Linked DNA regions of Homo sapiens. The protein of the gene in region 3 purifies or fractionates together with the protein of the main gene of each other region. This does not show direct contact. Each region holds a gene or a part of one and is shown on either strand. Other genes may lie near its edges.

Evidence for each region.
Region 1: the proteins of CPSF3 (region 3) and CSTF2 purify together in Homo sapiens (affinity purification with mass spectrometry; 3 studies listed by BioGRID and IntAct, with this or other methods). This does not show direct contact.
Region 2: the proteins of CPSF3 (region 3) and DDX23 fractionate together in Homo sapiens (co-fractionation; one large-scale study listed by BioGRID). This does not show direct contact.
Region 4: the proteins of CPSF3 (region 3) and LRRC41 purify together in Homo sapiens (affinity purification with mass spectrometry; one large-scale study listed by BioGRID and IntAct). This does not show direct contact.
Region 5: the proteins of CPSF3 (region 3) and POLR1E fractionate together in Homo sapiens (co-fractionation; one large-scale study listed by BioGRID). This does not show direct contact.
Region 6: the proteins of CPSF3 (region 3) and PKN3 purify together in Homo sapiens (affinity purification with mass spectrometry; one large-scale study listed by BioGRID and IntAct). This does not show direct contact.
Region 7: the proteins of CPSF3 (region 3) and CSTF3 purify together in Homo sapiens (affinity purification with mass spectrometry; one large-scale study listed by BioGRID and IntAct). This does not show direct contact.

What each region holds. Positions count from the first base shown.
Region 1 is NC_000023.11:100,822,904-100,827,180, forward strand, and holds part of CSTF2 (cleavage stimulation factor subunit 2), read left to right. Parts: intron 1-388; coding exon 389-525; intron 526-982; coding exon 983-1,102; intron 1,103-1,216; coding exon 1,217-1,354; intron 1,355-3,730; coding exon 3,731-3,854; intron 3,855-4,277. UniProt on the Homo sapiens protein: One of the multiple factors required for polyadenylation and 3'-end cleavage of mammalian pre-mRNAs. This subunit is directly involved in the binding to pre-mRNAs.
Region 2 is NC_000012.12:48,845,076-48,849,352, reverse strand, and holds part of DDX23 (probable ATP-dependent RNA helicase DDX23), read left to right. Parts: intron 1-3,570; coding exon 3,571-3,779; intron 3,780-4,277. UniProt on the Homo sapiens protein: Involved in pre-mRNA splicing and its phosphorylated form (by SRPK2) is required for spliceosomal B complex formation.
Region 3 is NC_000002.12:9,468,188-9,471,438, reverse strand, and holds part of CPSF3 (cleavage and polyadenylation specificity factor subunit 3), read right to left. Parts: intron 97-3,251; coding exon 1-96. UniProt on the Homo sapiens protein: Component of the cleavage and polyadenylation specificity factor (CPSF) complex that plays a key role in pre-mRNA 3'-end formation, recognizing the AAUAAA signal sequence and interacting with poly(A) polymerase and other factors to bring about cleavage and poly(A) addition.
Region 4 is NC_000001.11:46,279,217-46,283,493, reverse strand, and holds part of LRRC41 (leucine-rich repeat-containing protein 41), read left to right. Parts: intron 1-2,108; coding exon 2,109-2,369; intron 2,370-2,933; coding exon 2,934-3,098; intron 3,099-3,203; coding exon 3,204-3,302; intron 3,303-3,879; coding exon 3,880-4,002; coding exon of another isoform or gene 4,003-4,052; exon of another isoform or gene 4,053-4,230; intron 4,231-4,236; coding exon 4,237-4,277. UniProt on the Homo sapiens protein: Probable substrate recognition component of an ECS (Elongin BC-CUL2/5-SOCS-box protein) E3 ubiquitin ligase complex which mediates the ubiquitination and subsequent proteasomal degradation of target proteins.
Region 5 is NC_000009.12:37,488,171-37,492,447, reverse strand, and holds part of POLR1E (DNA-directed RNA polymerase I subunit RPA49), read right to left. Parts: intron 3,134-4,277; coding exon 3,048-3,133; intron 167-3,047; coding exon of another isoform or gene 73-166; intron 1-72. UniProt on the Homo sapiens protein: Component of RNA polymerase I (Pol I), a DNA-dependent RNA polymerase which synthesizes ribosomal RNA precursors using the four ribonucleoside triphosphates as substrates.
Region 6 is NC_000009.12:128,715,561-128,719,837, reverse strand, and holds part of PKN3 (serine/threonine-protein kinase N3), read right to left. Parts: intron 3,092-4,277; coding exon 2,915-3,091; intron 1,514-2,914; coding exon 1,451-1,513; intron 1,290-1,450; coding exon 1,213-1,289; intron 153-1,212; coding exon 10-152; intron 1-9.
Region 7 is NC_000011.10:33,154,543-33,158,819, forward strand, and holds part of CSTF3 (cleavage stimulation factor subunit 3), read right to left. Parts: intron 1-4,277. UniProt on the Homo sapiens protein: One of the multiple factors required for polyadenylation and 3'-end cleavage of mammalian pre-mRNAs.

The DNA.
Region 1 (4,277 bases), on a different chromosome or scaffold from region 3:
TCAAATTCATCAAGCCATTAGTAGTACTAACTGTGGCATTAGTCATTCCTGTCACTCTTTTCAGGAATTTTTGAAGTTAGCGTATTTTTCTCTTTTAACCTTTTGTTTCTGAAATGACTTGTTAAAAGAAGTCAATGTGCCTAGTTCTCTAACTTAGGTTAACATTGTCCTTCCATGTGATCATGATCCCCAGCTTTCCTCTGAGAACAGAAAATACACTCTCACTTTCCTCCACAGAAACAAGAGGCTTTCACATCATTTATTTCTCAGCTCTGGAGAATCTAAAATTATCAGCTGGTTCTTACAGCAGCCCTGAAAAGTAGATATTTGAAATGATTTAGCTTTTTGTTTTGCCTCCCTAACTTTCTTGTACTTTCTTCTTGATTAGGCCTTGGCACTGGTGCCCCTGTCATTGAGTCACCTTATGGAGAGACCATCAGTCCTGAGGATGCCCCTGAGTCCATTAGCAAAGCAGTTGCCAGCCTTCCACCAGAGCAGATGTTTGAGCTGATGAAACAAATGAAGGTGGGAGGAGGCATTAGGTTATGAATAAAGCAAATCACATCAGGTTTTCAAGGAGTTACTTGAATTAGTTCCCTGAGCTCAAATAGAAATTGTCTGTAGACCACCATTTCTTGCACCTTCAATATTCTGTATGTACACAGTATATTTTACATTTTGTACAAAGAGCTTTCTATTTTTGTACACAAACACAGCTATCCAAACAATCCAGCTGGAGTTTTGTGGCCCATAGATGTCAGATGTAGATATTAAAATTTGGCTTTTTTCCTAAATGATAATATCACAGTATTTGAAATGCCTCTTTCTTCTCTTGCCTGCCATGACCAAGGTTTTTTTGTGCCATGCAAAAACTAATGATAAAGAGCCTCTTGAATATTACATTTCTCAGAGGGGAATGGCTCTAAATCACTATCAGTTTCTAAGTCATAAGTATTAAACCTGAATCTGCTTATCTTCTCAGCTCTGTGTCCAGAATAGTCCCCAGGAGGCACGGAACATGTTACTTCAGAACCCTCAACTGGCTTATGCTTTGCTGCAAGCACAGGTAGTGATGAGAATTGTGGATCCGGAAATTGCCCTGGTGAGTGCTTCTGGTTCTTTTATGGAAATGGTCGGGTAAACCTTGAATGGGATAGGAACTACCTGATTGCTTTGTTAAACAGACAGCTCATAGGTTTGTCTTTTCACTTTTTAGAAAATTCTGCATCGCCAGACAAATATCCCAACGCTGATTGCAGGCAACCCTCAGCCAGTCCATGGTGCTGGGCCTGGCTCAGGATCCAATGTGTCAATGAACCAGCAGAATCCTCAGGCCCCTCAGGCCCAGTCTTTGGTAGGGCTTTATCCCTTAACATTTTTTTGTATCTGTCTTAGAATGTCATTTTCTTTTTAGGAGAATATATTGAAAGAAGAATGGTCAGGAACCAGAGATGATAATTTCAATTTCCAGGCATAAAAGCAATTTCCAGGTTGCAGAGCACATGACATCTGAATGAATATAGATTCGATTCCAAGTTTGTAAAACAAAGAGATCCTTCCCGTATGCCCTTTTCTTATAAGCTAACTTTGTGTGTATGTGCATGCCTGGCACTGTGGTTGGCACTTCGTTATTCCATATGCATTATCTCATTTAATCCTCAAAGCAATTGTATGAGGTTGGCACTCTTATTATCTCCATTCTTACTGATGAAAAAAGTAAAGCTTGCTTTCAAAGCATGACACAAAACCTTAAAGCCATAAAAAATTGATACATTTGAAAACTAAAAAATTTCTATATAAAGAAAAAAATAAGTATCAAAGACATGACAAATTGAGAAAAAGTATTTACCACACATGTGATGGAAAACAGACTAATAAAGAGCCCATAGTCATTCACAAGAATGTTTATTGCCTTAGAGTGAAAAATTGGAAATGTCCTAAATGTACGTCAGTGGAAGAATGGAGAAAATGTGTGGTACATTCATCCAGTGAAATACTGTACAACAGTTAAATAAACTACACGTATCAACATGAATGACTTTGAAAAACATAATTCCATACAGCAGTTAAGATGAACTAGGATACATAATATCAACACAACTCCAAAACAGTGACATACGGACATGAAACTAAGTGAATATGGATGCATTCCCGAAATGTAGGATATATGTTTCTGCATAAATCCCCAAAATATGTGGAATGAGTTGCAAAATAATATATTGAGTATGTAATGATTCATATAAAATTTTGAAACATTAAGAAGACGTCTTAGTGGTCATCAAAGGAGAAGAGAGCACAGGATGCAATTGGGGAAGACCGTACAGGCCATTGGTTTATTTTATTTACTTATTTATTTCCTAAGCTGGGTGGCTATTTTATTTTCTATATGATTTGTATATCTGTAATTTTTCATAATAAATTTTAAAAGGCCTCCTATAAATTAGTAAGAAAATTTCCAATAACCCAGTAGAAAAATGGGAAATAGACATAAATATTTCACAAAAGGAGAAATATAAATATATAAAAATTTATTCAACTTCAAAATAAGATAATGTAATAAATTATCATTTATATATGTAATGTTATAAGATAATGTAAATAGAAACTACAATAAGCTACCATTTTTCATCTCTCAGGTTGGCAGAGGTACAGGGCAGGGACCAGCAAACATTTTTCTGTAAATGATCAGACAGTAAATATTTTTGGCTTTGCAAGTCACAGGATCTGCCACAGCTACTCTGCCATGGTAGTATGAAATCAGCCATAGGCAATAAGTGAACAAGTGTGTGTGGTTGTGTTCCGTTAAAAGTTTGTTTATAAAACCAGGCAGTGAGCCCGATTTGGCCCATGGGTCATAGTTTGCCAACCCCTGCTCTAAATAAATAAATACATTTTCAGAGATAGAAAAAAAAAGCTAAGGCCCAGAGAGGTTAGCTGGTCCAAAAATTGACACAATTATAAGTGGCAGATCTATTTCTGAACCTGGTTTTATCTGACCTCACAGCCAGTTTTCTCTTAACTACTTTCCTATACAGCTCTTCCTTTTCTTTTGTAGAGTTTTGTGTTCCTTAAACGTATATGTGATTTTTTTTATATAACTTGGCTTTTATTCTTTATTTATTGAGCTGTTTCTAATTCAAGGGACTACTCAGTTTTTTGGGGAATGCACAGATGAAAAGATGACATTCTCTTTTTCTCAACGAGTTTTAATGTAGCATTTAAAAAAATATATTTCACATTCCCCCAAAACCAGAATTATATCTAAGGACAGGAGTGAGAAAAGATTGGTTAAATTAAAAAAAAAATTTAATTTTAAAAATGTGGACTACCAGCAGTTGTTTTTTTTAAAAGAGTCCCAGTCTCCTTTTATGTTTCTTGGGTTTAGGGCTTTTTTTTTTTTTTTTTTTTACTCTTATTGGCAGCCCCAATCATGAAGTTAACAGTAGGTGTTATGTGCTGCCTTGCCACACAGATAAGACTTGTCAATCTCTACATTGAGAATATGTTCCATCTTAACCGTGTTCCATATAACCAGGCTCATGACGTATATTGCTTCTGTGGAGTTTAAAGTGTGTGACAAATCTAATGCTGCATAAGACATGCCATACAAAAAGGATGTTTAGTAGTGTATTTGGGGCTGTTCATTTGAAGAGGACTTTTAAGGTCGTAGACTTAGTATATTGAGTATCCACAGAGGCATATACATACTCTGTTTTTTTTGCTTGGTCAGGGTGGAATGCATGTCAATGGCGCACCTCCTCTGATGCAAGCTTCTATGCAGGGTGGAGTTCCAGCACCAGGGCAAATGCCAGCTGCTGTCACAGGACCTGGCCCTGGTTCCTTAGCTCCTGGAGGTAAGTTTCATTTAGTCTTCACCATTTCAGTACTTGCTAAAGTTTTGTCATAGCCACTGTTGCAGTGCAGCCAAATATGATAATGGGATCCTTAGGTAAAATTAATACACAGCTAGAAAGTATATATCTTAGGTGGAGGAAATAGTAGATTTCTTACGTTAAATCCTGTATGTCTAATTATAAGAACAGGGAAAGGGACAGTAAAGTGAAAGAGCATAGTAAAACTTCCAAGTTAACAAGGGGGAAAATGGAATGAGTGGAAACAAAATCAAGCCAGCAAAAATAGAGAAGAGGAAAAAAGTAAGAGACAGTGTAAAATAAGTAATAATAAATGTAGAGTAAGATGGAAGGAATAAAAACTAATGTAGTTGTTACTCTGCTAAATATGAATGAACTGTCAGATTAGGTTCAAAAGCTCATGAA
Region 2 (4,277 bases), on a different chromosome or scaffold from region 3:
TAAAATTTTATTGTTCAAAATAGACGGGAAGTCTTGCTATATTACCCTGGCTGGTCTCGAACTCCTGGGCTTAAGTGATCCTCCCGCCTTGGCCTCCCAAGGTGCTGGTACTACAGGCATGAGCCACCAGGCCTGGCCAAACAAATATGTTTTTAACTGACAAACGTGTAGTTGGGCTCACACCTGTAATACCAGCACTTTGGGAGGCTGAGGCCGAAGGATCCCTTGAGCCCAGGAGTTCAAGACTAGCCTGGGCAACAAATTGAGACCTTGTCTCTAATAAAAATTTTAAGAATTAGTTGGGGCCGGGCATGGTGGCTCATGCTTGTTATCCCAGCACTTTGGGCACTCAGGGCGGATCACCTGAGGTCAGGAGTTTGAGACCAGCCTGGCCAACATGGTGAAACCCCGCCTCTACTAAAAATACAAAAATTAGCCAGGCGTGGTGTGGCACGCGCCTGTAATCCCAACTACTCAGGAGGCTGAGGCAGGAGAATCACTTGAACCTGGGAGGTGGAGGTTGTAGTGAGCCAAGATCATGCCATTGCACTCCAGCCTGGGCGACAGAGCAAGACTCCATCTCAAAAAAAAAAAAAAAAAATTAGTCAGGTGTGGTGGCATGCGCCTATAGTCCCAGCTACTTGGGAGGCCTAGGCAGGAGGATCGCTTGAGCCTGGGAAGTCAAGGCTGCAGTGTGCCGTGATTGTGCCACTGCCCTCCATCTTGCGTGAGAGGGTGAGACCCTGTCTCAACAACAACAACAACAAAACAAACCTGACAAACATGCTAAGCTAGTTCACATTTCTTGTATCTAACAAGGGTTTTTTACCCTGATCTTTTCATGGCCCTCTTTCCCATCATTCAAGTCTCAGCTTAAATGTCAACTAAAACTTCTTCCCTGAGCCATCTATCTCTTGTTATACCCCTACCCATCATATCACTGTTTTATTTTCTTCATTAGCATTCATTACTATTTAAAATCCTTTCCGCTACACTAGAATTTAAGCTTTATGAAGTAGGAGACTTTGTTTTCTTTTTTTTTTTGTTTTTTGTTTTGTTTTGTTTTTGAGACGGAGTCTCACTCTGTCACCCAGGCTGGAGTGCAGTGGCATGATCTCGGCTCACTGCAAGCTCTGCCTCCCGGGTTCACGCCATTCTCCTGCCTCAGCCTCCCGAGTAGGTGGGACTACAGGCGCCCACCACCACGCCCGGCTAATTTTTTTGTATTTTTAGTGGAGACGGGGTTTCACCCTGTTAGCCAGGATGGTCTTGATCTCCTGACCTCTTGATCTGCCCGCCTCAGCCTCCCAAAGTGCTGGGATTATAGGCGTGAGCCACCACGCCCAGCATGAGACTTTGTTTTCTTTACTGCTTTGTCTCCGTTACCTACAACAATTTCTGGCACCTTGTAGGTGCTCGGTGAATATTTGTTGAAAGAATGAATGAAATCCAGGATGCTGTACAGAGAAAATAGCCTTCCTTTGGGATTGTTTTCTTAGGGCTGTAAGTGTTTTTTTTATTTTTTATTTTTTGGTGTGTGACAGGGTTTTGCCCTGTCACCCAGACTGGGGTGCAGTGGCACAATCTCGGCTTACTGCAGCCTCTGCCTCCCGGGCTCAAGCAGTCCTTCCACCTCAGCCTCCTGGGTAGCGTGTACCACCATGCGTGGCTAATTTTTTATATTTTTAGTAGAGATGGGTTTTTGCCATATTGCCCAGGTTGGTCTCGAACTCCTGGACAAGCGATCCACCCACCTCAGCCTCCCAAAGTGCTGAGATTACAGGCATGAGCCACCACACCCAGTCAAGACATAGGTATTTCTTTCTTTTTTTTTTTTTTTGAAACGGATCACGCTCTGCTGCCAGGCTGGAGTGCAGTGGTATGATCTTGGCTCACTGCAACCTCCGCCTCCTGGGTTCAAGTGATTCTCCTGCGTCAGCCTCCTGAGTAGCTGGGACTACAGGCACGTGCCACCATGCCTGGCTAATTTTTGTATTTTTAGTAGAGATGGGGTTTCACCGTGTTGGCCAGGATGGTCTCAATCTCCTGACCTCATGATCTGCCCGCTTTGGCCTCCAAAAGTGCTAGGATTACACGGTGAGCCACCATGCCCAGCCCAAGACATAGGTATTTCTGTGTGATAGCCATGATGTACTGATACAGAACAATCAGTCATTTCTCAGGTGATTGTGAGATAAAATGGGTTGTCCTCACCTTTTGAAAGTGCTTCTTGTTCATTTTTCTTTTCTCATCTTTATACAATCTTTCTTAAGGATATATGGCAGGGAATGGCATGAGAAAGGGGCTTGTAAGCTAAAGCTTAAGGAACCATTCGAGCTGAACCATTTGGGGATAAAATAAGTTGCGAGAAATGTATCCCAAGTCTTTGGGATGATGATGAGGTGGTTGCAGATTCAGGCTTGCTGCAGTTTTAGCTCCTGGCTGAACTAGAGTTCATAGCCCAAAGAAGAGTTGACAGTGTGGGAGTGGTGTTCGGTGTCTCCCAGGTAGGAGGGAGACAGAAAAAATTCCTGCTGAAACCTTTCACAAAACTGGGTTATGCAGATGACCAAGGTTGTGAAAATCTGAATAGGGAATGTCAATCAGGACTTCTGCAACCTCTAGTTTTGGGTATTTAAAATATATATCTTTGAAATAATTATAGTTTCACAGGAAGTTAAAAAATGTGTATAGAGGTTCTGTGTACCCTTCACCAAGTTCTTCCCATTGCATAATTAGAGGTACATTTCTTTTAATCTGAGTAAAAGTGTGTTTCTCCACTTAAATTCAGGTTTTCCTTGTGGTGCTAATTATAACGTAATCCAGATCTCAAAGTTAAACTTTTTTCTCCATTGAGCTTTCTTTATGAGCTCAAGAAAATTTATCTCTCTCAGACGTATGAGTGCTAACTGATCCTAGTGGGTTGGCAGACCTAATAAACTTCAAAGTAAGCAATATAGGATGTTTCTAGAAATAGTTGGTACACTGTTCATACACTAACACTTCTTTTAATACTCTTTTGTAGTCTAATTACAAAAACATGGTATATTCACTGTACATATTTAGAAATGAATATATAAAAAGGAATCGACCAGGCACTGTGGCTCACGCCTGTAATCTCAGCCTTTTAGAGGCTGAGGCAGGAGGATTGCTTGAGGTCAGGAATTTAAGACCAGCCTGGGCAGCATAGTGAGACCCTGTCTATAAAAAAAATAAATTAGCTAGGCAAGGCAGGAGGATGGCTTGAGCCCAGGAAGTTGAAGCTGCAGTGACCTATGATTGCACCACTGCACTCCAGCCTGGGTGACAGAGTGAGACTCTGAAAGGAATTACAGGGAGACAATATAGTGAGTAACGATGGCCTGTGGAGCCAGACTGCCTGCAACTCTGCCACTACCTGTCTGCCCTCAGACAAGTTCCTTTATATACCTGAGCTCCACCGTTCTCATCTGTACGGTAGACATACTAATATATCCACCTCATAGGGTTGTTTTGAGGGTAATTGAATTATATATAAGCAGTTTAGAGCAGTGCCTAGTACATTGTAAGTACTCTTCCTACTCATTACAGATGGCAGGAGAGCTGGCTGACAAAAAGGACCGTGATGCATCACCTTCCAAGGAGGAAAGGAAGCGATCACGGACTCCTGACAGAGAGCGGGATAGAGACCGGGACCGGAAGTCTTCCCCATCTAAAGATAGAAAGCGGCATCGTTCAAGGGATAGACGTCGAGGAGGCAGCCGTTCTCGCTCTCGTTCCCGTTCCAAATCTGCAGAAAGGTAAAGTAACTTTGTATGTTATTACATGGGAAGGGAGAGTACGTTTCAGATTTCTTCCTTCTTGGTTCTTCTGATGCCTCCAGTATTAGGCATCTACTTTTTATTTTTATTTTTTGAGACAGAGTCTCGCTCTGTTTGTTACCCAGACTGGAGTGCAGTGGTGCGATCTCAGCTCACTGCAAGCTCCGCCTCGCAGGTTCACGCCATTCTCCTGCCTCTGCCTCCTGAGTGCGTAGCTGGGACTACAGGCGCCCGACACCATGCCCGGCTAATGTTTTTGTATTTTTAGTAGAGATGAGGTTTCACCGTGTTAGCCAGGATGGTCTCGATCTCCTGACGTGATCTGCCTGCTTCAGCCTCCCCAAGTGCTGAGATTATAGGCGTGAGCCACCGCGCCTGGCCTTTTTTTTTTTTTTTTTAAAAGATGGAGTTTCACTCTTGTTTCCCAGGCTGGAGTGCAATGGCACGATCTCGGCTCACTGCAACCTCTGCCTCCCA
Region 3 (3,251 bases):
CGTGTCTCCAAGTTAAGGTTGGCAGTTTTCCCGTCCACTGTGACGCTAAGAATAGAGTCATCCTTTACACTTACACAGTCTTCTCCAAATATGTCCCTGAAAATAAGCAGAAATGCAGGATTAGTGAAAATGCCCGGCTTTATATATTTGAGGAAAAAATAAAACTGAAGATAGGTCCTAGTTCTAAAGCAGAATACTGTATTTACTTTTTTTCTTTTTTTTTTTGAGATGGAGTCTTGCTCTGTGGCCCAGGCTGGAGCGCAGTGGCACAATCTTGGCTCACTACAACCTCCGCCTCCCGGATTCAAGTGATTCTCCTGCCTCAGCCTCCCTAGTAGCTGGGATTACAGGTGTGCACCACCACAGCCAGCTAATTTTTGTATTTTTAGTAGAGTCAGGGTTTCACCATGTTGGCCAGGCTGGTCTTGAACTCCTAGCCTCAAGTGATCCACCTGCCTTGGCCTCCCAAAGTGTTGGGATTACAGGCAGGAGTCACCATGCCCAGCCTGTATTTACTTTTGAGACAAGCTTCTTATTTGCCTTGATACAGCTTATTAAGTTTATAAAACAGGGAAAATACACAGCTTTATTCAAGAATGATCTATTCAGCAGGCATCATGCTAGGTGGTTTATATACATTATCTTAACCTATAATTTTAGTAAGGATCCCCTTTTACATGTGAAGAAAACAAGACACAGAAGTTAAGTGATTTGCTTAAAGCCTCACAGCTAGTAAACAGCTGAGCCGGCATTCAAATCCAGGTATCTAGGTTTAAATGGCTCCCAAGCCCACTAGCTGTGCACTCCTACTTTAATTAAACTTGGTATTTATTGAGCATCTTCTGTGTGGCAGATTCCTTCTGTGCTAGTAGCTGGGGATAAAGAAGGCACTAAGACATTGCCTCTGTCATCGAGAGAAACAGTTTTGATGGTTAATTTCAACATCGTCCCCATTGGTACAGAGGTGTTAGGAAACAGCAGTCCACCAGCAGGCTGAATGCAGGTAAGAAAGGCAGGCAGTGACTCTAAACAACCCATGGACCATGGTCAGCCTAGGACAGTTAAGCACTGACAACACTGTATTAAGCGGGGGAAGTGGGGAGTGGGAATCAACTCCTTGCATCTTCAGGCAGTTACTGCTCATCATATGTGTGAATAAACTTAGGTGGGACCCTAGCACAAAGGAAAAGATTATATTTTATTTTATTTATTTATTTTGAGACGGAGTCTTGCTTGTTGCCCAGGCTGGAGTGCAGTGTCCCGATCTCGGCCCACTGCAACCTCTGCCTCCTGGTTTAAGCAATTCTCCTCCCTCAGCCTCCTGAGTAGTTGGGATTACAAGCACCCACCACCACACCTGGCTCATTTTTGTATTTTTAGTAGGGGTATTTTGGATGGGGTTTTGCCATGTTGGCCAGGCTGGTCTCGAACCCCTAACCTCAAGTGATCCACCTGCCTTGGCTTCCCAAAGTGCTGGGATTACAGGTGTGGGTCACCACACCCAGCCAAAAAAATTATATTTTAAACACAGAAATGTATTCAAAAGGATAGGAAAAAAGGTTCCATTTTCATGTGATCCACTGTTGGCTTCTCTGAAGAAACCAATACATCTACTCCTATCTAATCCTAAGTGTTTAAACAACTGGGGAAATAGCTGCATTTTTAAGGGTACGATTGGCTTTGAAGTTTAAGGACATGGGAACCTCCCATTCCTGGCCGAATGGAAGCTGTCTCATACTCCTGTTCCTCAGAGTTGAATAGTTCTGGTGTGTTTGTGGGAGGTGAGGGAGAGGGAGGGGAGGCGGGAGGAGTGGTGTCAGGAGGACAGGGAAGAAGGCCAGAGTGAAAGTCCAGTGGAAGGGCCGCAGCCTCCCGCAGACTGCCCTCCCCACGGCTCCTGAGGACCAGCCACAGCAATGTGAACTTCCATTCTGCACCCCGACTGCAGCACGTGGGAGAGCGGGGCCAGTCCAGGGCCACACGGGTTTTCTATTCTTGTAGAGCCCCAGGGAACAGGGCCGCCAACAGAACTATTGTAGTCAAGTCCCTGGTCAGCAACACCCACCTTCTACAATAGGGCTGTTTAACCGGGGGTCCCAGGATAGCCTGTGGGGAGGGGGTTGTCTAACCTCCTTGAAATCAAAGGTAAAACTGCATATATGTGTGTCCCCTGCCCCCGCCCCACAGCCTTACCTGACTGCCAAAGGGGTGAAGGATCTAAAAATGATTAAGATACTCAGACTTCAACGCTGGCAGACTTGAGCCCTCTGCAAAATGAGTTAAGAGAACCAGAGGCTCCAGGGGTGGGAACCAGTAAAATCTCTGGCCTTTTCAACGGCCATGGTAATCACTGTGCCTGCACTGTTGGCTGGTTTTGTATGAGGAATGCTCTTTAAAATCAAAATGACAACACAGAGAATACTGTTTTGAAGATGTATGACAACTTCTATAAACAAAGTCATCATTTAAAGTCTATCATTTTTTTTTAAAGCCACTAAACTGCTGCTTTAGTGGGCCGGGCACGGGGGTTCACACCTCTAATCCCAGCACTTTGGGAGACCAAGGCAGGTGGCTCATGAGGTCAGGAGTTCGTGACCAGCCTGGCCAATATGGTGAAACCCTGTCCCTACTAAAAATACAAAAATTAGCTGGGTGTGGTGGGCATGCGCCTATAGTCCCACTTGCTCGGGAGGTTGAGGCAGGAGAATCGCTTGAACCCGAGAGGTGGAGGTTGCAGTGAGCTGAGATTGTGCCACTGCACTCCAGCCTGGGCGACAGAGTGAGACTCCGTCTCAAAAAAAAAAAAAAAAAAAAAAAAAGGTCAGTGTAGAATTTTGGGGAAAGAAAGGAAGGAACAGAAATGTTAGCATAAAAGCCTTCTAAACTAGCAGGCCACCTTACTTTGTTAAACCGTTTCATGGGGCAAGGGCTCACATCTGTAATTCCAGCATTTTGGGAAGCCAAGGCAGGAGGATCCCTTGAGCCCAGGAATTTGAGACCAGCCTGGGCAACATAGGAAGTCCCTGTCTCTCCAGAAAAATAAAATTAGCTGGGCATGGTGTTGCGAGCCTGTGATCCCAGCTACTTGGGAGGCTGAGGCGGATTGCTCGAGCCTGGGAGTCAAGGCTGCAATGAGCCAAGATCATGCCACTGTATTCCAGTCTGGGCAATGGAGCAAGACTCTATCTCCCAAAAATAGAAATAAAATAAAATAAAATAAAAAGAAATACTTAGTTTAAAGTTAATTCATC
Region 4 (4,277 bases), on a different chromosome or scaffold from region 3:
CTCATTACATCCAACTTGAATGCATTTTTATATTTTTAGTAAGGACAGGGTTTCCCCATATAGGCCGGGCTGGTCTCGAACTCTTGGCCTCAAGTGATCCACCAACCTCGGCCTCCTACAGTGCTGAGATTATAGTCATGAGCCATTAAGCCCAGCCCTATCTTTACAATTTGTTAAATACATTTATTTCTCTATCTCCACATCCTTAATTCAAGCTACCATTACCCACTACCTGAACTAATTTCAGTAGTTCCTCCGGACTCCTTACTCTTGCCATACAAATCCATTATCTGCACTGCAGCCCAAGCATCCTTTGAAAAATGCAGTCTTGATTCTTTAAAAAAATCAGTCAAAAATGACCCTGTCATTCATTTATGCAAACACCCTTCAATGGCTTAATTTTACTTAGTGGTCATTCATATTCTTACTCCTGGTTATCTCTATAGTTGTATCTTTTTTTTTTTTTTTTTTGACAGGGAGTCTCTGTTGTCACCCAGGCTGGAGTGCAATGGTGCAATCTTGGCTTACTGCAACCTCCGCCTCTCGGGTCCAAGCAATTCTACTGACTCAGTAGCTGGGATTACAGGCACATGCCACCATGCCCAGCTAATTTTTGTATTTTTAGTAGAGACGGGGTTTCACTATGTTGGCCAGGCTGGTCTTGGGCTCCCGACCTCAGGTGATCTGCCTACCTCAGCCTCCCAAAGTGCTGGGATTATATAGGTGTGAGCCACCACACCTGGCCTATAGTTGTATCTTGAATGCTTCCCCCCTTCACACTCTCACACCAGCCATTATGAAATTTTTTTGTTCTCCTTCAGGCCTCTACATATGCCAAGTTGCCTCTGCCACAATCATTCTTCCTAAATTTTAGCCTGTCCCCTTTATGTTCTTTAGGACTTAGCTGGAGTGCCTTTACTGATGTAAGCTGGACTAGGTACTCATCCTTTGTAATTTCATAGTACTTTATTCCCCCAGTTCCCATCGCATTATCAAGCTATGTAAGAAAAAAAAGCAATGTGCTGCTCACTAGTGTCTAGCAAAAAACTTGATATTTAGTAGGCACTGGGTAGTTGAATGAATGAACAGGAGCCTGCATAGTCCAAGGAATTATTTGCCTGTGGCATTAAGCAACCAACCTTCCTGGATCCTAGTCCATGCTGTGGGATTTGGTTATCTTTTCCTGCCCCATTCCCACCCATTGATTCTTTTAAGTATCCCAGTTGGGTCACTGTCACTCTCCATAGTTTTTAGGTGCTCCCTATTGCGTCTAGGTTAAACCATCCCTTTGCCTTTCCATAATGTGGCCTCCAGTGCCCTGCCCTCTAGAGCTGTTTCCTGAGCCTCATGTAGCCAAACAAGCAAGCGTCTCATTCATGCCTTGCACTCTCCTAGCTGTGATTTTTTTTTTTTTTTTGAGACAGTCTTGCTTTTTCACCTAAGCCGGAGTGCAGTGGCGTGATCTCAGCTCACTGCAACCTCCGTCTCCTGGGTTCAAGTGATTCTCCTGCCTCAGCCTCCCGAGTAGCTGGGACTACAGGCATGTGCCACCCAGCCCAGCTAATTTCTGTATTTTTAGTAGAGACAGGGTTTCACCATGTTGGCCAGGCTGGTCTGGAACTCCTGGCCTCAAGTGATCTGCCCACCTTGGCCTCCCAAAGTGCTGGGATTACAGGCGTGAGCCACCGCTCCCGGCTAGCTGGGACTCTTGACTATGTCTTCTCCCTCTATCCAAAACTTCCTTCCTTCAAGGCCAGTTTCTTCAGAAAACTACTCAGAACCCAGAAATCCAGAGAACTGCTACTGTCTGTGCCTGTCATTCAGCTAGTAGCCACATGCTGCCTCACCATATTGTATCTTCTCAATTTTGTGACTCTGCCCTGACTGGTGCTTCTTGTGGGCATAACCCAAAACAGCAGACCTCAGTTTGCTGGTTACCTAAGGAAAAAGCAAGACATGGATGAGTAGTTAAGACAAATGGGTTTAAATAAGCTGAGCCAAAGCCCAAGAGATTTGCTAGTAACCAAAAGTATTTGGAGTTGTATTTGAATATATTACCCCTGCTGACACTCCCACATGGTTCTGACTTAATCTCTTTCTTGCCATAGGCCTGGGCTCTAACATCTTCCGCCTGCTAGACAGCCTGCGGGCCCTGTCAGGCCAGGCTGGATGTCGCCTCCGTGCCCTGCATCTCAGTGACCTGTTCTCACCACTGCCCATCCTGGAGCTGACACGTGCTATCGTGCGAGCACTGCCCCTGCTACGGGTCCTCTCTATTCGTGTTGACCACCCAAGCCAGCGGGACAACCCTGGTGTGCCAGGGAATGCAGGGCCCCCTAGCCACATAATAGGCGATGAGGAGATACCAGGTGAAGCACTGTGTGTGTGTTTGTGTGTGTGCACGCACGTGTATCCCCACACAAAGGTGCAGATGCATTCGTATGGGGAAAGGGGAAGGACCTCTTCTATCACTCATTCCTGGCTTATCTGGAACCTATCCCCCCTTTAGAGCCTACCACTAAGATACTCTTGAGCTAGACAGGGCCTAAACCACCATAAGACCAGCAGAGAGTGACCAAGGCAGCTTGGTCTCCAGAAAAGGAAAAGAACTGATCTTTAGACTGGATTAGTTCCCCTGCTGTATGTTCCCTTAGTTCTTGTATGTCTCCTATCCCACCACTCTGCATACTTTATTTGCTTGTGTCTGGGTAGCCTGTCTTCCTGGTCTAAAATTTCTACAAGGGCAAGGACTAAATCTCATATTTAGTGCTCAATTCCTAGAATCTAGCACAGTGCTGACATATGGTAGGCACTCAACGACAAGTGAATGAATAAATAATTTTTTAGATGAATCCCTTAAGAACAGGATGGGACCTGCTATGGGAGTGAGGTAGAGATGGCCAGCTGGAATCTTCTTTCCCCACCATATCCAGAAAACTGCCTGGAGCAGTTGGAGATGGGATTTCCACGGGGAGCCCAGCCAGCCCCACTGCTGTGCTCCGTTCTGAAGGCCTCGGGTTCTCTGCAGCAGCTGTCCCTGGATAGTGCCACCTTTGCCTCTCCCCAGGATTTTGGGCTTGTTTTGCAAACACTCAAAGGTAGGACCCAGCCAGAATGGTGAAGGGAGAGGAGTAGGTGGGGACCTAGCACTGTTCTCTAGGAAAGCTAAGGTCCATGGTCCATGGTCTCTGCCTCCTATCCAGAGTACAACCTAGCCCTGAAAAGACTGAGCTTCCATGACATGAATCTCGCTGACTGTCAGAGCGAGGTGCTCTTTTTGCTACAGAATCTGACTCTGCAAGGTAAGTTCCTTATTCAGAACCTGGACATTTCCTGGGTCTTCACTATGGTTCTGCCATAATCTGAGTGAGCAAACCACTGTTCCTTTCTTGGCCTTGTGTCCTCAGCTATAAAATGGATATAGAACCTGCATGATTTTCCTTCTAAAAGCCCCAACCTCAATTCCTCCTCTACTAAACATGAGAAATCGCTCTTTTAGAGTGCTTCACCCAAAAGTTGCTCTTACCTTTCAGAGGTGGACAAAATGGTGGTGGTGGGGCAAAATAAATGTACTGTGCCAGGCTCCCCTCATAGACTTTTCTCTGATCCCCACCCCCGCATAGAGGGTGGCCAGTGTTAGGGAAAGAAGGAAGTGAATGGAGAATTGTCCATGCAGAGAACCTTCTTATAGGGAACATTTAGGTTCAGTCTTTAGTTTGGATTCTGATTTAGTTCCAGCCTTGCTTGGAGTCTAGACAAATTCCTTCCTCTTTTTGGGCCTCTATAATGTTAATACCCCTTGCTAGGGCCAACTGGGGCAGGAGGGGCAGCACCAGTCCTAATGCAGCCATCAGAATTTACTATAATTTTTCTTGACAGAGATTACCTTCTCCTTCTGCCGTCTGTTTGAGAAGCGCCCAGCCCAATTTCTGCCTGAGATGGTTGCTGCTATGAAGGGCAACTCCACACTGAAGGGCCTCCGGCTGCCAGGGAACCGCCTGGGTGGGGGCCAGACCCTGGGGAGGGAGAGGGGAAAGGAGCTAGGCCTTTGACCTAAAAACTCACTGGATAAAGGCAAAGACCTCTCCACTGGGAACGTGGGAGTTGGAATACAGATATTTCTGTGCTGGGGCTTCAGGAACCAGCAGGGCTGGTTCTGCCAGCCATAGTTGGGTTGGGATACCCTTGTCCCCTGTTCTTGGGTGGAGGTGATAGGCGTTCTCCCCTTCTCTCCAGGGAATGCTGGCCTGCTGGCCTTGGCAGATGTTTTCTCAGAG
Region 5 (4,277 bases), on a different chromosome or scaffold from region 3:
AAGCGGTCATCCAGCCCAACCTCTTCATTTTAGAAATTAAAAAACAGAAGGCCCACAGATGAAATTACTTGCCCCAGGTCAGTTCACCAGGTAGTGGCAGAGACAGGATTAGAAAACAAGTCCTTGGCTCTTTCCAGAAAATAATTTTGCTTTCTTGGTGAAAGACCTAAAAGCAGGCATAAACATGAGGTATGTGGTACTTACCGATGCTCTCCAATCATCTACAAAGTACTCAAATAAGGGCAGTATAACTTAGTACACAACAGTACAAGCTCTGGAGTGGCCTTGCCTGTTATCTCAGCCATCACCCCTGATAAGGTCATCTAACCTCTGTGCCAGTTTCATCACTGGTAAAAAAAGAACAACAGTACTTACTCCAGAAGGTTGGTATATGCATGGAAAGTGCTTAGAACAGTGACTAGCATATAGTAAGGACTTAAATGTTATCTCTGTGTGTGTGCTACCTAGAATAAACTCATATTTACAAACTTCTTACATATAACAACAAAAATATGTTTAATCAACACGTTAAATTACAATTTTCCTTGCCTCCCTGGATTTTACAAGAACAGTTGGAAGATGATTTAAATATAGTTATATATGTTTGCAAAGCAGGGGGACACCTAGGAAATTCACAGATGGGTGTCCGGACTCAAGAGACCTTTAAAATTACGTGTAAAATTTGGCTAGGCACGGTGGCTCACACCTGTAATACTAGCACTTTGAGAGACCAAGGTGGGTGAATCACTTGAGGCCACGAGTTTGAGACCAGCCTGGCCAACATGGTGAAACCCCATCTCTACTAAAAATACAAAAATTAGCCGAGTGTGGTAGCGCACACCTATAACCCCAGCTACTCAAGAGGCTGAGGCAGGAAAATCGCTAGAACCCGGGAGGCAGAGTCTTCTGTGAGCCCAGATTGCACCACTACACTCCAGCCTGGGTGACAAAGCGAGACTGGGTCTCAAAAAAAAAAAAAAATTATGTATAAAATCCCATATTAAAAAAAATCCCATATATATGTATTTGTGTATCATATATGTTTCTCAGAAGTAGGTCCAGGTCCTTAGCAGATTCTCAAAAGGGATGGAAGCACTGCTTTGAGAGAATAAAACTGGAACTAATGCCTCTGAGGTATCAGGCAGATTCACAATGCTCCCAATGTTTCTTTCTTGTCTATCGCCCTATCCTGCCATGGTTCCCAGTATTTAAGGGCATCACTAAGGATTCAAGTTCTGAGATTTAAGGAACAGAAGCCCCTTGAGTGTGACCCTTTTATTTATTATTTTGGAAGATCTCACTCTAGCCCTGAGCATTCTAAGATGACAAAGCAGAGAAACAATGTAAATTCTTCCACTGGATTAGGGAAAAAAAATAGATCTTCCTCAAATTAGTGTAGAGACTTGTCCTCAACGTGAAAGTTACTATACAACTTAATAAGCAATTTCCTTTGTCTACCAGAAATTCTAAAACCTCTTTACCCCAACTATAACAGTTAAGAATTAAGAAAGAACCCTTTCGGCCAGAACTGCCATCTTGCAGTAATTCATCAAAATGACAAACACAAAGGGAAAGAGGAGAGGCACCCAATATATGTTCTCTAGACCTTTTAGAAAACATGGAGTTGTTCCTTTGGCCACATATATGTGAATCTATAAGAAAGGTGATATCGTAGACATCAAGGGAATGGGTACTGTTCAAAAAGGAATGCCCCTCAAGTGTTACCATGGCTAAACTGGAAGCGTCTACAGTTTAGCATGCTGCTGGCATTGTTGTAAACAAACAAGGGCAAGATTCTTGCCAAGAGAATTAGTGTGCGTATTGAGCACATTAAGCACTCTAAGAGCCGAGAAAGCTTCATGAAACGGGTGAAGAAAGATGATTAGAAAAAGACAGAAGCAAAAGAGAAAGGTACCTGGGTTCAACTGAAGCGCCAGCCTGCTCCACCCAGAGAAGCACACTTGGTGAGAACCAATGGGAAGCAGCCTGAGCTGCTGGAACCTATTCCCTATGAATTCATGGCGTGACAGGTGTTTAAAAAATGAAAGACCTCTGGACTGTAAAAATGTTTCTCTTCATTGAGTAGAAGTGTGGTGTTCTCTCCCCCAAAGAAATATTTAAGGCAAATTTTAATTATGTCCTAGTTCATTATGTAATGTCTTTACTCTTCAAATTTAATGTATTTCTTGCTGAAAGACGTGAGGTAGCTTATTGTGCAACAAACTCCTCGATTGTTTAGAAAATGGCCAGGTATTACGTATGAAATATTTGTACTGGTTTGAAGATAGTCCCTTGAAATGATCAAGGAAGAAATAAAGTAATTTACAAAAATAAAAAATAAAAATAAAAAGAATGAAGGAAGTTCTTTTATGGAAAAGATTTTATATCAGACATGTCCTCTAATATTCTGCTCTGATCATTGCTCAGATTGCTTTTATGAACCTCTGACCTCAAGTCTCTAAACACTATGGGGACAGGATCTGTGTCTGTCTTGCTTACTGCCACATCCACAGCCCCAGCTTGGTGCCTGGTACATTAGGTTATCAATAAGTGTGTGCTGAATAAAAAACTCTAGGCCGGGCGCAGTGGCTAGCGCCTGTAATCCTAGCACTTTGGGAGGCCGAGGCAGGTGGATCACCTGAGGTCAAGAGTTTGAGACCAGCCTGGCCAACATGGTAAAACGCTGTCTCTATTAAAAATACAAAAATTAGCCGGGTGTGGTGATGTGCACCTGTAATCCCAGCTACTCGGGAGGCTGAGGTAGGAGAATCACTTGAACCCGGGAGGTGGAAGTTGCAGCGAGCCAATATCACACCACTGCACTCTAGCCTGGGTGACAGAGTGGGACTGCATCTCAAAAAAAACAAAAAACAAAAAACAGTGTGTATATAAAAAACCATTTTCTCAACACAGACAAAGCAGAAAAAACAGAATAAATAAATTAAAATAACTATAAAATGTGTTTTATAAATCTAAAACTCAAGCCAACTCATCCAGCAAACCCAAACTATGCATTATTTCTGTCAGCTTTCATGACTGGGACCTACCTGAAAATAGTGGCTGCATGTTGAACAATTCAGCATCATATACTTCCATTTGGCCAGAGGTCTTGTTCAAAATTCCCACAAAGTGCCTGAATAAAGAAGAAATAATACAAATAACAATGGATTATTCAAAAGCATTATTTGTACAGCTTTCTTTTTTTTTTTTTTGAGACAGAGTCTTGCTGTCACCCAGGCTGGAGTGGAGTGGCATGATCTCGGCTCACTGCAACCTCCACCTCCCGGGTTCAAGCAATTCTCCTGTCTCAGCCTGCTGAGTAGCTGGGATTACAGGCGCACGCCACCATCCCCGGCTAATTTTTGCATTTTTAATAAAGATGGGTTTCACCATGTTGTCCAGGCTGGTCTCGAACTCCTGACCTCAGGTGATCTGACCCTATCAGCCTCCCAAAGTGCTGGGATTACAGGCGTGAGCCACTGCACCTGGCCCTGTTTCCTGTTCAAAAGTTCTCAACCTTCTCTCTGCCCACACACCTGAGGAATGCATCATCTACTCATGGGTAACAATAATCTCCCCTACCCCTACCCCACAGCAATTCTCTGCATAGAGAGGGAATAGGAAAGGATAGGATGGGATGGGAGGATATGAGGTGGTTCTGGGAAAAAAAAAAAAGCTACTAGGTGATTCTGATAGTTGATCACATTTGGGCTCACTGCGGTAGTGTAATGGAAAACTCTTTTGGGGTGTACGAACCTAGAATTACACTACAATTTATGGCACAACAGTTTTATGGAGGCAAAATCAAGTAAACGGGGAGGAGACCAATTGGAACTAGGGCATCTCTGAGAGGGGAGAGTGCAGGGTTAATAGTTCTCAGCACCTATACACCCATCTGACCTCTCCTCTATTGGAGTATGGTCCACCGGGGCTCAGAAAGGGCCTAGTTTGTAGTTCATTGTTGGGTACCATCACAGGGCCCTGTCTGCATCATGCCAGCCCCCGAGAGTGATACAGTTCAGGCTGGACAATCTTCACTGTACAGAGGGGGAGGCTGGGGGTCAGTGATGCGCAGAGTTACCCAGCCACTCAGTCAATCAGCAGCACAGCTGGATGGGAATCCCAGGCTCCTCTTTCCCAGTCCAGAGCCTTCAACACTACCAAGTTCTTTACCTGTCGTTAGTTCCCAGGTAAACTTCACGCAAGCTTTGACCTACTAGTCACACATTCCAAATTAATGGAGAGACCTGCCTTTTGGAATAAGACAGCTATAAATA
Region 6 (4,277 bases), on a different chromosome or scaffold from region 3:
AGCACTCACCTCACCCACCAGCATCTCGTAGAGCAGCACACCCAGCCCCCACCAGTCCACAGCCCGTGTGTATGCCTCCTGGGTCAGCACCTCGGGAGCCAGGAACTCCGGGGTGCCACAGAAGGTGCTAGTCCGGTCCCCGAAGCCGATCCCTGCAAACCAACAGGCACACCAATAGCTGCTTGGTGTGGCCTATTCACAATAACTTCAATAGCCAAGCCTTATGATGCCAGGGAGCTGAGCCTGTGCCAAGCCCTGCCCTGTACCCAAGGAAGTGGGAATGGTTATGACGCCATTTGACTGCATGCAGAGCCAAGCTCACAGGCTAAGGTCACAGAAGGCAGAACTCGGCTGGGTGCGGTGGCTCACACCTGTAATCCCAGCACTTTGGGAGGCCGAGGTGGGCAGATCATGAGGTCAGGAGTTCGAGACCAGCCTGGCCAACATGGTGAAACCCCGTCTCTACTAAAAATACAAAAAATAAGCTGGGTGTGGTGGCATGTGCCTGTAATCGCAGGTACTCGGGAGGCTGAGGCAGGAGAATCTCTTGAACCTTGGAGGCAGAGGTTGCAGTGAGCCGAGATTGCGCCATTGCACTCCAGCCTGGGCAACAGGGCAAGACTCCATCTCAAAAAAAAAAGAAGCCGGGCGCAGTGGCTCACGCCTGTAATCCCAGCACTTTGGGCGGCCAAGGTGGGTGGATCATGAGGTCAGGAGATCGAGACCATCCTCGCTAACACAGTGAAACCCCGTCTCTACTAAAAAAATACAAAAATTAGCCAGGTGTGGTGGTGCTCGCTTGTAGTCCCAGCTACTTGGGCTGCTGAGGCAAGAGAATCGCTTGAACCCAGTAGGTGGAGGCTGCAGTGAGCCGAGACTGCACCACTGCATTGCATCCTGGGCGGCACAGCAAGACTCCGTCTCAAAAAAAAAAACAAACCAAAAAAAAAACAGAAGGCAGAACTCAGTCTCCTCTCCCATCCCTGACCACAGGCTCTCCCTTGGGCCAGGTGCAGGCTGGGGCTACGAGCCTCTAGGACTAGGAAGAAAGGGCCAGTGTGCCCAGCTGTCCCCTGGAATGAGGTCTGGGGTGGTGGAACCAGGGCATCCGCAGGTGAGGAGATTTCCTGGGACATGCCATGTGCCCATCATCCTATTGGCCAGGGTGGGTAAACAAGGCTGGAGATATGGATCCCAATGGGCGGCCCCCACCTTCCTTGCAGAGTCCAAAGTCTGCGATCTTCAGGAATCCCTGGGCATCCAGCAGAAGGTTATCCAACTTCAGGTCCCTGAGGGCAAGGGTGCAGATCAAAGGGACTGAGTGGGGCTTAGACCCAGGGAACAGTAACGGCCCCTGGAGCAGCCCAGGCAGGCGGAGGCAGCATCTGTCCTTACCCACTCCACCCCCACCCCCACCCCTACCCCCGTGCATCCCTGGGACAAAAGTCACCTGTAAATGATCTTCTTCTCGTGTAAGAACTGCAGCCCCAGGACAACACAAGCCACGTAGAAGCTGCAGGGGTGGTTATGGGAGAACTCAGGCCCAAGACACACACCAGGGAGGCAGGGCAGGGAGGCACCAGGATGGCCATAGCGGGGGGATCCCGGATGTCCCGGCCAGAGTCAGAGATGAGTGAGACTGGGACAAGCATCATGCTGAGGGTGGGGGTGCTCCAATAGTCCCAAGGTCGCCCCAAGGTTGCGTGCATTTCCAGCTCACCCTTCATGGGCCCTTAAATGGTGCCAGGGACCAAGTGTTGGTCCCTGCAGTGGATATTCATCATGCCTATTTTTTTTTTTTTTGAGACGGAGTCTCACTCTGTCACCCAGGCTGCAGTGCAGCGGTGCGATCTCGGCTCACTGCAACCTCCACCTCCTGGGTTCAAGCAATTCTCCTGCCTCAGCCTCCCAAGTAGCTGAGACTACAGGCACGCGCCACCACGCCCAGCTAATTTTTTTTTTTTTTTTTTTTTTTTAGTTTTTATAGAGATAGGGTTTCACCATGTTGGCCAGGATGGTCTTGATCTCTTGACCTCATGATCCACACGCCTCAGCCTCCCAAAGTGTGGGGATTACAGGCATGAACCAACGTGCCCGGCCTTTTTTTTTTTTTTTTTAGATGGAGTCTCACTCTGTCGCCAGACCGAAGTGGCGGGATCTCGGCTCACTCCAACCTCCGCCTCCTGGGTTCAAGCGATTCTCCTGCCTTAGCCTCTCAAGTAGCTAGGATTACAGGCGTGTGCCACCATGCCTAGCTAATTTTTGTATTTTTAGTAGAGACAAGATTTTACCATGTTGGCCAGGTCACGAACTCCTGACCTCAGGTGATCCACCCGCCTCAGCCTCCAAAGTGCTGGGATTACAGGTGCCCGGCCAATCATGCCTATTTTTCAAATAAAGATCTGAGACTCACCAGGTGTGGTGGCTCACGCCTGTAATCTCAGCACTTTGGAAGGCCGAGGTGGGCGGATCACTTGAGGTCAGGAGTTAGAGACCAACCTGACCAACATGGAGAAACCTCGTCTCTACTAAAAATACAAAATTAGACAGGAGTGGTGGTGCATGCCTGTAATCCCAGCTACTCAGGAGGCTGAGGCAGGAGAATGGCTTGAACCAGGGAGGCGGAGGTTGTGGTGAGCCGAGATCATGCCATTGCACTCCAGCCTGGGCAATAAGAGCCAGACTCTGTCTCACAAAAAAAAAAAAAAAAAAAAAAAAAAGAAACCTAATGCACAGCTTCATAAGCTGATACCCAGGATCACAAATGCTGTCAGTTGGTGCCAGGATGTAAACCAAGGCCTCTGACTCCTGCTCCCCTGCTGTTGGGCACTTGGAGAAAGCAGTATGTAGAGAGTGGGTGTAGGGAACCAGGCAAAGTTTGCTGGAAGAGGCAGGCAGGAGGGATGGAACCCACCGGGCCTGGGGCTCGGGGAAGACATCCTCGTGGATCTGCATCATGAGGTCACCACCAGGCACAAACTCAGTCACAAAGCAGGCATGGCTGGAGGTCTGGAAGCAGGCAAGGAGGGAGAGCAGGAAAGGGTGCCCTGTGCAGCCCACAGCCTCCAGGATCCGCTTCTCGCAGTACAGGCTACAGGAGAGAGCAAGAGTATTAGAGGGAAGGAAAACTTTCCCTGGGCTGTGCCCTGTGCCCTGCACAACACCCCTGGCTCACTGGGCCCTCAGCCAAAGTGCCAGGCAAGTAGACTGATGGTTTCTTTTCATTTTTTTTTTTTTTTTGAGACACAGTCTTGCTCTGTCGCCTGGGCTGGAGTGCTGTGGTGTGATCTCAGCTCATTGCAACCTCTGCCTCCCGGGTTCAAGAGATTTTTGTGCCTCAGCCTCCCGAGTAGCTGGGATTATAGGAGTGCGCCACCACGCCCAGCTAATTTTTGTATTTTTAGTAGACGCAGGGTTTCGCTGTGTTGCCCAGGCTGGTCTCGAACTCTTGGCCTCAAGTTATCCACCTGCTTCGGCCTTCCAGAATGCTGGGATTACAAGTGTGAGCCAGTGCGCCCAGCCTTTTTTTTTTTTTTTTTTGAGACAGGGTCTCACTTTCTTGCCCAGGCTGGAGTGATGTGGTGCGATCTCGGCTCACTGCAGCCTCCGCCACTGAGGTTCAAGTGATCCTCCCACCACAGCTTCACGAGTAGCTGGGTGTGCACCACCACGCCCAGCTAATTTTTGTATTTTTTGTAGAGGCGGGTTTCACCATGTTGTCCAGGCTGGCCTCGAACTCCTGGGCTCAAGCAATCCTCCCACCTTGGCCTCCTGAAGTGCTGGGATTACAGGCATGAGCCACTGTGCCCAGCCTCCCCCTCCTTTTTTTTTTTTTAATTAGTTTTTTTAGATGAGGTCTCATTCTGTTGCCCAGGCTGGAGATCTCTGCTAACTATAACCTCTACCTCCTGGGCTTAAGCAATCCTCTCACCTCACCCTCCCAAGTAGCTGGGACTAAAGGCACATGCCACCATGTCTGGCTATTTTTTATAGATGGGGTTTCACCATGTGATTCAGATTGGTCTTGAACTCCTGGACTCAAGTGATCCGCCTGCCTTGGCCTCCCAAAGTGCTGGGGTTACATGCATGAGTTACCACGCCTGGCCATAGAGTGATGGTTTCTATATGTCAGGGGCTCACAAGGAGCTCTGAACGTGCACAGCCACCAATGCCCCCATTTTACAGTAGAGCAAACTGACAGAGAGAAGAGGGGACCTGCCCAAGGAAACACAGTTAACAACTGCAGGTGCCAAAAGAGAATGCAGGCTGGCTGGCCC
Region 7 (4,277 bases), on a different chromosome or scaffold from region 3:
CTGGAGTGCAGTGGCTGTACCTTGGCTCACTGCAACCTCCGACTCCCGGGTTCAAGTGATTATCCTGCCTCAGCCTCCCAAGTAGCTGGGATTACAGGTATGCACCACCACACTCAGCTAATTTTTGTATTTTTAGTAGAGACGGAGTTTCACCATACTAGCCAGGCTGGTCTCAAACTCCTGACCAAGTGATCCGCCAGCCTCAGCCTCCCGAAGTGCTGGGATTACAGACAGGCGTGAGCCACGGTGCCGTGCTGAGACTTTCATAGAGGAGTAACCTAACTGATTCCATTCATATGCCCAGATAATAAAGAACTATATGTGACAGGTGTCACAATGAGACCGGATATTAGGACCAGATGTCAGCTTAGTTCTGTGTTCCTTTACCAATGCAACCAAACCCTACTTCATGTTTGTTGTGAATGAAACTGAACATGTATCCTACAATACAAAACTAATCCCTCCAAATCATCCATAGATTAAAAATCTAAACATACAAACAACTCAAAAACTTAAAAAAAAAAAGATCTTGGGCCGGGCATGGTGGCTCACACCTGTAATCCCAGCGCTTTGGAAGGCCAAGGCGGGCGGATCATGAGGTCAGGAGATCAAGACCATCCTGGCTAACACAGTGAAACCCCATCTCTATTAAAAATATAAAAAATTAGCTGGGCGTGAGGGCGTGGTGGCGGGCACCTATAGTCCCCGCTACTAGGGAGGCTGAGGTAGGAGAATAGCGTGAACCCAGGAAGCGGAGCTTGCAGCGAGCCGTGATTGCGCCACTGTGCTCCAGCCTGGGCGAAAGTGCAAGACTCTGTCTCGAAAAAATAAAAATAAAAAAATTAAAAAAAAAAAAAAGATCTTGGCTTAACATATTAGTTCAAATAATTATATTTACCATTATCTGCTTAGTAAACTTGCATATTCATCCCCTAGGAAACAAATAGCTACAAAATATAAATTAAAATCTTAACCGTTTGGAACTTAAAAGATGAGACTTCTTTCAAATATGAATAATCCAGATTTAATACACTAAATAAACTAAGTCAAACATTAGAAAAACATTAATTAGGACACACAGAAGCTTTGCCCTTCTGATTTTATTCAATATTTACTATGTATCCTAAGTTGTCCATTAATCTAAAGATAGTTTAAACAACTGCCAACTCAAATCCCTTTTTTAGCCCAATTCTCACACCATTACCAACTGTCCAACAAAACAAAACAAAAAGACTCAAATTCACAGGTAGGTCCTATCTAAAGAGAAAGATTCAGAGACATGGTAGAAAAGCTTAAAATCACCGTCACCAAATCGAAGATTTAAAAAAAAAAGCTTAAAATCATGAATTGGTATGGGTAATTGTCCAATAGGTAAAAACACCCAAATACAGATTTTGCCCTTCTGAAGGTCTATCTGGGATGTAAATGCCTACATTCCCTGAAATAATGTTGAAGGAATGCAGTATCACCTAACACAGTACCTTTCTGCTGTATCTCTAAGAAAAACCCAATTCTCATTCTTTAAGCACAGAGCAACTTCTCTTAGGAACAACTGTCCCCAAACAGAATATTTGATAATGCTCCAGTTTCCTAAGAAATATCAACAATAAAGATCAAATCAATTTGCCTGCCCAAAACTGTTACACCAAACAAGCATCACTAAAAATAGGAGGCAGAAAACTAGGAAGGGCTGTTACAGAAAGATTTTGGAAAAAATAAATCCAAAAAAACACATTGTCCAACACACATAGTTGGCTCTTTCTCTGCCTCTTCTAACCCCTACACATATATGCACCTTGACTAAAATTGGCGATACTGTTACTTCTAAACAGCTTAAGTACTAATGTTTACCTAACGAAATAAACCAGGTTTCAGGTTTCAATGCTGTGGGTGTTTCAACTTTTTCTTTCCTTATTAATAATAAGTATATAATAGGACACATACTCTTCATTATTTTCTAAATCTTCCCAAAATTATTTTTCACTAAAAACACGTATTTATGAGCCTAAATGCTCCTTTGTTAAGAACTACCAGCAATTAATTTGCGCTTCTTAGAATCATGTAGCTTTTCCAAGCTGAGGATCATTTGGCTTGTATTTTAGGCCTTCCAAATTCTAGGATAAGTTATACATTATTTAAAAGGTGAAATATGGCTGGACTCACACCTGTAATCCAACAGTTTGGAAGGCTGAGGCAGGAGGATCACTTAAGTCCAGGAGTTCAAGACCAGCCTGGGAAACACAGTGAGACCTCGTCTCTACCTAAATAGTAAATAAATAATTTTTTTTAAAAGATGCAAACTTAATCCATTCATTTACTGAATACCTTTAAGCATCAAAATATTATTTCTTAGGTCTTTAAGACATAAAGATGAATAACATCATCTCTTCAACTAAAGAAGTTCAAAACCCAATGGAAAATGTCTAAATAACAGCATATTAAATGCCTTAAGAGTAGTGCACAAGGTTAAATAGACCTAAGAATGAGATCAAAAGTTGAATCAGGCATTAAAAAAAACAAACACCACAGGCTGGGCGCAGTGGCTCACGCCTGTAATCCCAGCACTTTGGGAGGCTGAGGCAGGCAGATCACTTGAGGTCAGGAGTTCAAGACCAGCCTGGTCAACATGGTGAAACACCATTTCTACTAAAAATACAAAAAAATTAGCCGGGCATTGTGGCGTGTGCTTGTAATCCCAGCTACTCAAGAGGCTGAGGCAGGAGAATTGCTTGAACCTGGGAGGCGGAGGTTGCAGTGAGCCGAGACCGTGCCACTGCACTCCAGCCTGGGCAACAGAGCAAGACTCCATCTCAAAAAAACAAAAAACAAACACAAAAAAACAAAACCATGAAATAAATAATACAGCCATAATTCCACACAGAAATCATATGTTTGTTAGGGGGGTAAACCTATATGCAAATAGTTTTTTCACCATTAAACTGGCAAAAACAATAAGCAAGGAGCTTCAGAAGAGATCCTTGAACACTATAAGGTAATTCCAATAGCTCTCTACATGCAAAATTGAACTTCCCTACTAGAGTTGAAAAAAAAATCACAGCAATAAACCTTTAGCAGTGATTTTGCTTGTCTGCAATAATTTCCCTCTGTTAGGGGGCACAAATCACAAATCTTAGCACCAAGAGAAAAATGACTATCCATATATTTTAGTAATAAATTTAAGATAGTATCAGGTTTATTCTACAAACTTGAACTTCAATGCTACTAAAAGGCTAAATCTACACCTGCATCTTGTAGGACTCTTTGTCCACCCCATCCCTTGGCATTTTTCCAAAGCAAATCCATGATTCAATGGTTTTAATTTTTTTCTTATTATTCTTTAGTCTCATTGAGTTTATTTTTCTCATCCATGATTTCAGGTTATTTTGGATACTCTCTTTTCCTCCAGATTTTCAATATTGTCTTAAATATCAAGCAAGGTACAGCTCATTCATATTTTCCATCCTTAAGGTGTTATTTAATGGTTATTTTAGTTGAAGCTGAATACAGTATCTAGGATTTGCTTCGAAGTAATGGGGGTGAGAGAAGCAAATGAAGTCATGGAGGAAACAAGATTAGCCATAAATTGAAGCTCTATGACAGGTACTTCATATATTATACTGTTTTTCTTACATGTTTGAAATGTATTATTAAAAAGTTAAAGAAAAGGCTATATGAAGATGACTTCCTTGTTGATAATCAGATGTCTAAATTGCCTTTCAGACTTAAGGAAAAGATATAAGAACCACCAAAAAGGTTTGGACAAGTTGAGTGTGCAAAAGAAAAATGGCTATCACTGATACTAACACACTAAGAGAAATCCATGAATCCATAGCGATACTTAATCTTTAGGAAGAAAAAAAGTCTTTTTTGCAGAAAGTATGAGCCAGTAAACAGACACAGACCAACAGAATTGTGGGTTTTAAAAACAAAACAAAACCACCATTTGCTACTTCCAATGTAAGAGCTGATTTAGTCAAGATTTATCAATTGATAACTAGGTATAAGGTGATTTTAAAGAAAACGGTTATCAACTCACAGATTATTAACTGCAAAGGGGAACATGACCCTTAACAATGAGATCACCCTAAACCAAGTGATCAAACTTAACCATCCTAACAGAACCCAGCAGAAGTACCTGCTAATGTAATGATATAATGTTAAGTATTCTATCCAAAAATACTTAACCCAAATATCAAGGCTGAGTATAGACCTAACTGTAAAGTTTTCAGGAAATACAGATGAAGGGACAAGTTAAATGACATCATCAACCCCCAAAC